Regions from separate parts of the Homo sapiens genome. Here region 1 is reported to be linked to region 2. The links are microRNA targets in miRTarBase. Many come from high-throughput screens and were not tested one by one. Region 2 holds a microRNA gene; the other region holds the end of a gene's coding sequence.
What was found. The annotated mature microRNA hsa-miR-4254 reads GCCUGGAGCUACUCCACCAUCUC and lies in region 2 at 2,409-2,431, opposite strand. An mRNA with a match to its seed (bases 2 to 7 or 8) in the 3' UTR can be bound and repressed. Matches are read on the target gene's strand: a 7mer-m8 pairs with bases 2 to 8, a 7mer-A1 pairs with bases 2 to 7 and ends in A, and an 8mer does both.

Region 1 (4,385 bases), not on the chromosome of region 2:
TTAATAAGCAAGTTGCCCTTCTCCATCCTGGTTTTCCTGCCTGTAGACAGGAAAAGTTGTGACAGCTCTGCTTCACATAGCTGTAACAAGGTGACAATGCCTCACATTCTTTGGGGAGAGGCAGTTCGGAAACGAGTGTGCGCACAATCTGCTCGGTTGATGCACACAGACATCCTTCTGTTCAGCTGCCCCTCAAGTGGCTCAGACATGCCTCACTGTCCTCGGCTACCTGGTCCCATCTCATCCTGACATCCTCACCTGCCTTCCATCTTGTGAAGGAATGAGGCTGCTCTACCTGCAGGATGCTGAAGCCAGGAGGGCCATCCCTTTATTGTCACAACTGGTATCCCAGGGCAGGGCCTCCCCGCACTGGCTAGCCACCAGGATGATGCAGACGTTGCACCCCAGATGTGTCTGCACTCTTAACTACCACCATTTCAATCCTTGTTTCTGTTGCCAGAGATACTGAAACTGGTCTGGCCATTGCTCCCCTCAGACCTGGGAACATGACTGAATGTTTAAGGATGACAAGAAGAGAGCAGCGATAGATAGCAAGGAGGCCTCTGACCAAGGGAAACTGCTGCCAACAGCTACCAAGCCAACTAGCCTTGGATCACACAACTGCAGCCATGGTGCTCATGATTCTGATGTCACACCTTCATGTTGATGTATGTATGATCACCCAGCAAGTTAGGAGTGATCAGAACCAATGTGTTTCCACTTGTAAATAGGCTGTTTGCTTTTTCCATCTTACACTCAACTTTCCTGATGCCTGCAGAACAGGAGCTTTGTTGATAAGCTTTTAAGATTCACCCCCTTCACTCCCACCATCCCCAAAAAAGAAGGCCAAGAGGATCCTGCTAATCTGCCAGGTCACGTCTAGTCTTTGGGGAGAGGGACTGAATTGCTCAATTGAGAACATTTCCTCAAAGGAATCCTCCAATTTGCCCTCTGCTAACCCATCTGGATTCAGCAAAGATGCAATGCTCTTGCTGGGGTGCTGAGGCAATGCCATGACATCTTCTTCAAGAGCACCTAACAGTTTATTATGGAACCTTAACTCTGTGCCAATTCTACCTGCAAGCAAGGGGACAGGGATGGTGCCTGCTCAAGACAAAAATCAGGGAACCAACAACTTCTGAAAAAGAGGTCTGGCTGCCTTTCCACACCCCAGGAAGGGAGGGGCGGAAACCGCACGTGCCGAAGGGAGCGCCATGGAACCACTGAGATGGGAGGATGGGAGGAAGCCACCCTCAGCCTCAGAGGCCAAGGGGCTGGGGAGAACCCAAACTCAAAGAGAGGATGTTGTGTGCATGCTAGGAAAGGCAGGACTCACTAAGGCCATGTCAAACCAAATGCTATCTTTTACTGCTCCTCTAGGCCAGGATGGAAACACAGTCCACGGTGCCTTGGATGTGTGTGCCCCTGAGAAGGGAACTGAGTTTCTACTGTTTTATGGGATGTTTTTTTAAAAAAGCTAATCTTTAGTGCCAAGAAAATAAAAATCTACCATACGTTCATTCACTGAGACCCAGTGCAGATTCCTGTAAATGGGGCGGTCTCAGAGGCCACAGGTGATGGCCCCCGCTGCCAACCAGGCAGGACACTGTCATGTGGACTCCTGTAAATTCTCTCGAGGTAAGTAAGCACTCTTCCAACAAGCACCACTTGGGGGTGTGCCCATGGTGGGGGGACACTGGCCCACACAGGCATGCACACCCGTGCATATAAAGTACATAGAGAAATGGTGGAGATATTCCCGTGGGCTATGTTTGCCTGTAGTTTAACACAACTATGCATTATTTTATTGATGGCAAGACAATCACAAGTTATTTGACAATATTAAGTATTTCTTATTTCAACACGTTGCAGTACTTTTGAATTTCCAAAACTTATCACAATGCAAGTTCCAACTTGAGAGCAGGAGAAACAAGAATATACATTGAGCACATGTATCTCCGTGAGGATGTGTTTGTGGAAGGTGTATACACAAGTCTATCTCTATATATAATTATGTACACACATATAAAAACTAAACACATGACATCTGAAACACGTTCAAACATTGGTCCTTGCCTTCTGCAAGAGGTGCTCAGTGGGATCCTGCTTCCTCTCTTCTTCACCTGAAGATAAATTCCTTGCTAGAGATGAGCTCTGGCATACAGCCTCCTAGGCAGAGGGTGTGTGGCAGGCCCACTGCACAAATATCAGTCCTGCCAGATTCTGCTGCACTTACTGCCTGCCATTTCAGATTAATTTCTGAGAAGTTTCAAAATTCATTCCAACGACCTTGTGGAGTTCAGCCCACCATACCCCAGATGGTCATTCATCCCATCTATGACATGCCCAGCAGCAGCCTGGAGGGAGAGCCAATGACAGCAGGGAGGGTGGGGTTTACATTTTGGCCAGACTCACTGCCCATTGCACCTGGCTCTGTGCAGGCTCAGGGCAGTGAGTCTGAGTCTATTTGGAATGCTGGCCAAGTAGGTTATATCACTTAGTGGGAAGAGAGAGTTCTCTTCAGAGACTTTGCAGATTCTCAGGACTAAGCCATTCTCAGGAATGAATCAAAAATGGAAGAGATGGCTCTCTGGGGGCAAGCAGCCTTCTGGAGACCCCACCTGAACCACATCCTCAGGTGACCACAGCGCAGCCACAGTAGCCACAAAGATATGTCCACAAAGACTTCAACTGCGCCATGCCACTGGGGTGAAAACATAGCAACAAATCAGCTTTTCCAGAAAGCACTCAACAATATTAGCAGCTGAGGCTCTAAGAACATGGATCTTTCAAGGTGGTGGTTCTGCAGACAACACCCCCCCCCCCCCCCGCCTCCCCATCACAGAGGATCAACTCCAGGTGGTCCAGCTTCCCTGACATCCAGGAGGAAGGCTTCAGGATGGCACACTGCCCAACATCACACACTGAGTTTCTTAGACTTGGCCCAGGCATGTGTACTGACTGCTGGGTGGGCTGGTTAAAATATTTTCAGAAGTACACATGGCACCCCAGTCTATAAACCACGCACCACGCAGCTGCAATTGCCAACAGCACCTCGTCCTTCTGATGGCCTCTTGCTCTGCCAGTCCCTGAGGGCACAGAGAACACAAGGTTGCCTGTACCCTCAACCCCCTTCAAGGCTTTTCAGGGAAAGAGAAGGAGAGGTGGGAGCAGTTCCTCTGGGGGCTGCTGCCGGGCTGCCTAGAGCCCACAGACCTTGGTCTCAGCTCCACACGAGGTTGACGACCCACTCTGGCCATGGAAAGACAAGAGTCAGAGCTACCTTTTCAGAGGCTGATGTGTTCAACCAATGTTTGATTTAACTGGAGTAGGGCCTAGAGAGTGGGGCCAGATGGCCCCAGACTGAAGCCTAATTAATTTGCTCAGTTAATTGTTTTAATTTATTGGGCTGGGGATAGGAGGAAGGCAGAGGTGATGAATGGTTCAAAGAGAACAGGAAGGAGGAGGTGTGTGGAAAAGGTTCTCTATAAGTTTACAAATATACAAAAACAAAAAGCACATCTTTCAAATAAAAATGACTACATTTTTATCTGGCAAAAAATTGTATACACATGATTTAAATTTTTTTTAAATTTTAACAGTTTTTGGCAATCTTAATAAAGTACAATATATTACAACCAAACCAAAAAATAGTTGTTTAAGTAACAGCCGTTAAGAGTGATGTGATCCCTGATGCCCAGCCTCCCTCCCCATCCCACCCTACTCCTAAAGACAGAGAGAAAAGAAAAATCCTCCCATCTTGATAACTCGGTTCCCTCCCCCCTTAGGAAGCTAGCCAATAGGAAGCAACACAACAAGCAAGGAGTGTCATGGGAAGCCACAGGTCGGCTCTGCATTAGCAGGAGCAGCCGCCCTCGCTGGCCGGGGGCTCCTGGGGTTTGTCCAGCTTGATGTCGATCACTGCAGGGGGACGGGCTAAGGAAGATGACTCTCCTGGACAAGCTGCCACCCCACTTAGCCCTGTGCACTGTACCCTTTGGCTACTGCTCTGTTTCTCTGCAAACACCTAGGGACTTGGCTCTTGGTTTGGCTGGGCTAGGAAGGATGCAATACCAACTCCACCTTGCCTCCTCTTCCCTTCACCCGTCCACTTCCCCCAGCGCCTGTCCACCCAAGCAAAGCCTGTCTTGCCTGGGCCGTGGGATCACCATCTATACCAAGGCCAGGGAGTCCCTTTCCCAGAAGCCTTCCCTCGACCAGTGCTCAAATGCCAGCTCCCAGCCCTGGCCTCAGCCCAGTTACCTGTCAGCCCCACTCAAAGTGCAATGGAGATGAAGAGCCTGCTGGGTTCACATCTCAAAGCACAGGGGTATGTGGGCCTTGCCTAATTGGCAGCAGGAGCAAACCCTTCAAGCTTTAGTCAG
Region 2 (4,342 bases):
TTGTTGTTGTTGATGAGCAAGACCTCGACAAAGCGGAAGGCTAGGGCAGCGGGCGCCAGCAGGCGCGGGGCCTCGGAGGGCTCAGCCGACAGGCACAGCTGCACGAAGTTCTTGTCGAAGTGCAGGAAGGTAAAGGGGCCTGAGCCGCTGCACAGCTCCAACCCCGCTGCCGCCTCTGCCTCCTCCTCTTCTGGCCGCCCCACCTCTGACTCCGCCTGGGCCACCGCCTCCTCGGGGCTAGGCCGCAGGCAGGTAAAGTTGACCAGGTAGTGGTCCAGGGGCAGCAGGCGGGGGGCAAAGTGTGCGCACACCTGCTCCTGGCGGTTGAAGCGCAGGTAGAGGGAGTACTTGGTGGGGTCAGGGTTCTCCAGGGTCCAGGAGCAGCCCGAGGCGATGGTAGGAAAGAGGTCCTGCAGCGAGAAGGCCCCGTAGAGCACACCCGAGGCCAGGGCAGAGCAGGCACTGGGGGCGGGGTCGAAGGCGGTGGCCAGGCGCAGGGACAGAATCACAGACAGTAAGAGGGGACAGGCTGGGGTCATCCTATGTCCCTTGCCCTGTGGAGAGAGACAGTGGTCAGCGGGCCCCCAGCACAGCCAGCATGGGCTCTGAACCTTCTATGGTGAGCTGCGGGAGTGGGCCTCATAAGTTAAGACCCTGGTCTTTGAAGTGTCACCTGGGTCCACCTGTGTGAACTTAGACAAGGGACTTGACCTCTCTGAGCCTCAGTTTCCTTACCTGTAAAATGGACCAATGATAGGACCTATCGCACAAGTTTCCTACAAGGGTGAAATAAGTAAGGGAAAGGACTCGCGAGAGTGCCTGGAATCTTGTGAGCCCTGAAGAAACAGTAGTTGTTGTTGCCATCGTTCTGTTTCCTCAGAGTCAGCCCATCAACTACAAGCATATTCGCCTTGCATTCAGATCCAGCCCCAGCCTCACCATCCAACCTGTATTCTCCATAACTCTTGCTCTCCATCCCCGTGTGTCGTGATCAGCTGTGAGGCATGTCACCGCGTAATCCTGTGGTAATTGTCAAAGTGGTGATGTTTGACTATGATTTGCTTTTTTATAAATTAGAGCAATTTGAGGTTATTCCTGGAACAATGTCATTCTCACTCACTTGCTTTACTGAGAGGGAGAGAAAGGGGCGGAGTTACAGCCAGTGTGCCAGGAACTGCGCACAACCTGAGCCATGCCCACAGGAGGGCACTGTCAGTGTGGACGTCACATGTATCACTGCTGTGGATTTCCTGGTTGGAATAAGGGGGAGAGGCACCGAGTAAGGGGACATTGGGCTTGAGCCCCAACCCAGCCAGCCACCTGCTGGTGGGTGACCCTCATGAGTCTCAGTTTTCTCATCTGTAAAATGGGTGCAGAAATTCCCCCTCTTACTTCCCTCTTCCCCTCCAGCTCCATGGGATTATCTTCCAAGGCCTGGTTCAGGGCCTGCTACCCCACCCCCCACTACCCACCTGTGAAGCCACCAGCCAGTCGTGACCTCTCTCCTATACTGTTTCCCCAAGGCTAGTTCATTCAGCTTATGGGTCTTCCAGTTCCTAAGAGTGGGGACCCAAGCTTGTTGCTTTCTACCTTCCCTTAAAGTGCTGCCCTAAGCTGAGCTCCCAACAGGTGTGAATGTACTCCAGGTGTGGGTGGGCACCTAGGACCCAAGCCCGACCCATACAGACACACAGAGCAGTCAGGCCAGAGTGGGTAAGGGCTGAGGATGGGGGGAGCTGCAGGTGCCCTCCCACCCACCAGGCCAGGGCTGTGTCACTGCCCACAGCCTGCGCAACCTCTACCCAACTGCCCAGAAAATGGAACCTAGCGCGTGGTCTGAATCAGCCCCACTTCCAATCCTACCCCCCAAGTAATCCAAGCGGCCTCCCTCCTGCATGCCACAGGATAGCTCACAGCACTGCATGGGCCCCCTAGAGCCCAGCTGGTCCTCATCAGAGGAGAAAAGATGGGGCTAGGAAAAGGGAGACAACCCGCTCCAGATCACACAAAGGTGGCCACAGAGGACGCAAGCCCAGGATCTGAGGCCCAGCCCAGGCCTGTCTCCCTCCACCAGTAGCCTCTGCTCCTTCCCTAGGCTTGCTGCTCAGGCTTCAGGCCAGATGGACCAGCTATTAGCTCTGGGGACTGAATCAGAAACACAGGACAATTCACAGGTATGACTAGATTCTCCCAAGACACAGTTGCTCCCAGGGAACAGACTTCCCCTTGGGTCTTCAGGAGTCTAAACAGCAGGCAGAGGGGGGACAGAATTTAGAACCCCAACTTTCCAGTCCCTGTGCAGCATCCATGGAGCTCCCCACTGCTCCAGATCCCACATCCCTTCATGCTGCACCTCCAAGCCAGGCCCAAGCAAGCATCTTCCCCTCCCAGCCATACAGGGGCTGGGGGAGATGGTGGAGTAGCTCCAGGCAGACCTACTCACTGCAGAGGAGCCACCCCACCCTCCTCCCAAGACCCACATGGAGTTATTCGGCGGAAGCCAGACAGGCTGTGCCTCTCCCCCCAACCACCCACCCTCCTCCTCAGAGCTGAAAAAGGGATCAGACCCCTGGTCTTTCCCACCCTACATCATGCCTGTCCCACACTGCTCAGCTCGCCCCACCTGCTGCGGCACTAGCCAAGCCAGCGGCTGATGATGAGTGACATCCAATCCCCCTGCTGCCCCCAATTATTTTTAAGCCGCAAAATTCAGGCCATGGCTGCGGCTCAGTGGAGGGGAGGTAGGGGCTCATTATAACCGGCCTCCCCTCCCCCACTTACAGCAGCTCAGGGAACCTCCCCTCACATACACACCAACACACATGGGTTTGAACACCCTTGTGCCCTGAGGACACACACACCAAAGCATGAGGGCACAGATGTTCACAGGAGTTCTGCATATGAATGGATACATATGTACACGGACATGCACACAGGTGAAACCCACAGATTCATGCTGTCACACACACTCAGGAGTTAACACGCACACACAGGGGTGTAGAGGCTTACACTTGTACACATGCACAGAGGTGCACACGCATTCTCGACTGAGAACACACATGAGTATCTGGCCCTCTGAGGCTCAGCATATGACAGCTAAGTGTCAGGCAGGATCCTCTGCGGGGTCTTCCTTTGCATGTCTGAAGCTGGATCTCCCTCCCCTACCCTGCTCCTAGGCTGCTGCTCCCTACTCCACAGCCCCGCCCCATCAAGAAGCACAAGGTCCACATCCTTCAGAGCCACAGGCTGGCTTCTCCAGAATGGAGTCACTTTTAACCCAATCCAACCCCCCTCCTCCCCTCAGTCTCCTTCAGACACCTTCACGCTCATTCTGGGATTTCGTCCTGGACATGCGTAACCCTCACTGTGCCGGCTATGACATAAGACCTTTTGGGGCGCCTTTTTATATTACTTCCCACCATTCAAAATAAGGCAAAGACCCAATTCCAAGCTGGGTCACAGACAGCCACTGGTTCATTGAAGACCCTCCTGCCTGTGTATAGCCAGGCCTGTCCTCCTGGGGGCACTGATGACCCAGAGGCCTCTCCCTGAGCCACCCGGGAAGGGGACCTAGAAGGATGATCCTTGCCTCACAGGCAGCCCAAGTGGCTCTTAGTCATGATTAACCCCCCTGAGCCTGTTTCCCTCTCTGTGCAATGCAGACCATGAGCCTTGCCCTGGGGATGGCAGACACCTCATCAGCCTCCCAACAAGTTCCCAGCACAGAGCCTAGCTCACAGCCCTGTCTCCTCTCTGTCTTTTCAGGACCTCATAAACGCTGCCCTCTTGCCTGCTGAGGTACAGGGCACTGCCTCTGGGAAGGCTCTTTGGGTTGAACCATAAGTGGCTGGCTACCTCCAAACCCAGGAAGACCACAGACCCATCCCTGCACAAGAGTTAGATAGGAGAGGTACTAAAGTCAGCTCTGAGGAAGAACTTCCTGGGCCAGAGGTGGCTGATAGAGAGGAGGATCAAAAGGCCTCCTGCCTCAGAGATGGGTGCGGAGCTGGCTGAAGTAGTCTCCCTCTCACTTTTAACCCTACCAAGGCCCCTCCTCTAGGGGGCTGGGGGCTGCCTTCACCACATGCCCCTGACCCCAGCAAACCCAAGAATCTCACTCTGCCCAAACACACTCAAGTCCCCTTTCTTTCCACCCCTCAGGGCTCCCCAGCTTCCCTTCTGCACCAATAAAGGAATTCAAAGCTTTCAGCAGCTGAAAGGGCCAAGGCAAGACTGTGGGGTAAGGGGCAGAGCAGCGGGAGAGGGGTGTCTCAGGCCCAGGGCCGGTCCGGGATTCCCAGGATGACTCCCATTCACGCTGGGTGGCGGGGGAGGGGCGGGC

Region 1: miRTarBase lists RAB6B as a target of hsa-miR-4254. Seed matches in the 3' UTR shown: 7mer-m8 at 2,357-2,363.

The regions. Positions count from the first base shown.
Region 1 is chr3:133,824,932-133,829,316 of GRCh38, forward strand. It overlaps RAB6B (RAB6B, member RAS oncogene family), which reads right to left. Exons shown (of 8, transcript NM_016577.4): 8 at 1-3,921. The coding sequence ends at 3,857. It also overlaps a transcript of SRPRB not described here. Among named protein-coding and RNA genes, the nearest start is that of SRPRB, 21 kb to the left of the region's middle.
Region 2 is chr1:31,756,262-31,760,603 of GRCh38, forward strand. MIR4254 (microRNA 4254) reads right to left here and starts at 2,474; the gene lies at 2,399-2,474. It overlaps ADGRB2 (adhesion G protein-coupled receptor B2), which reads right to left. Exons shown (of 33, transcript NM_001364857.2): 2 at 1,121-1,250; 3 at 940-1,020; 4 at 1-554. The coding sequence starts at 960. RefSeq lists enhancers at 1-329, 330-934.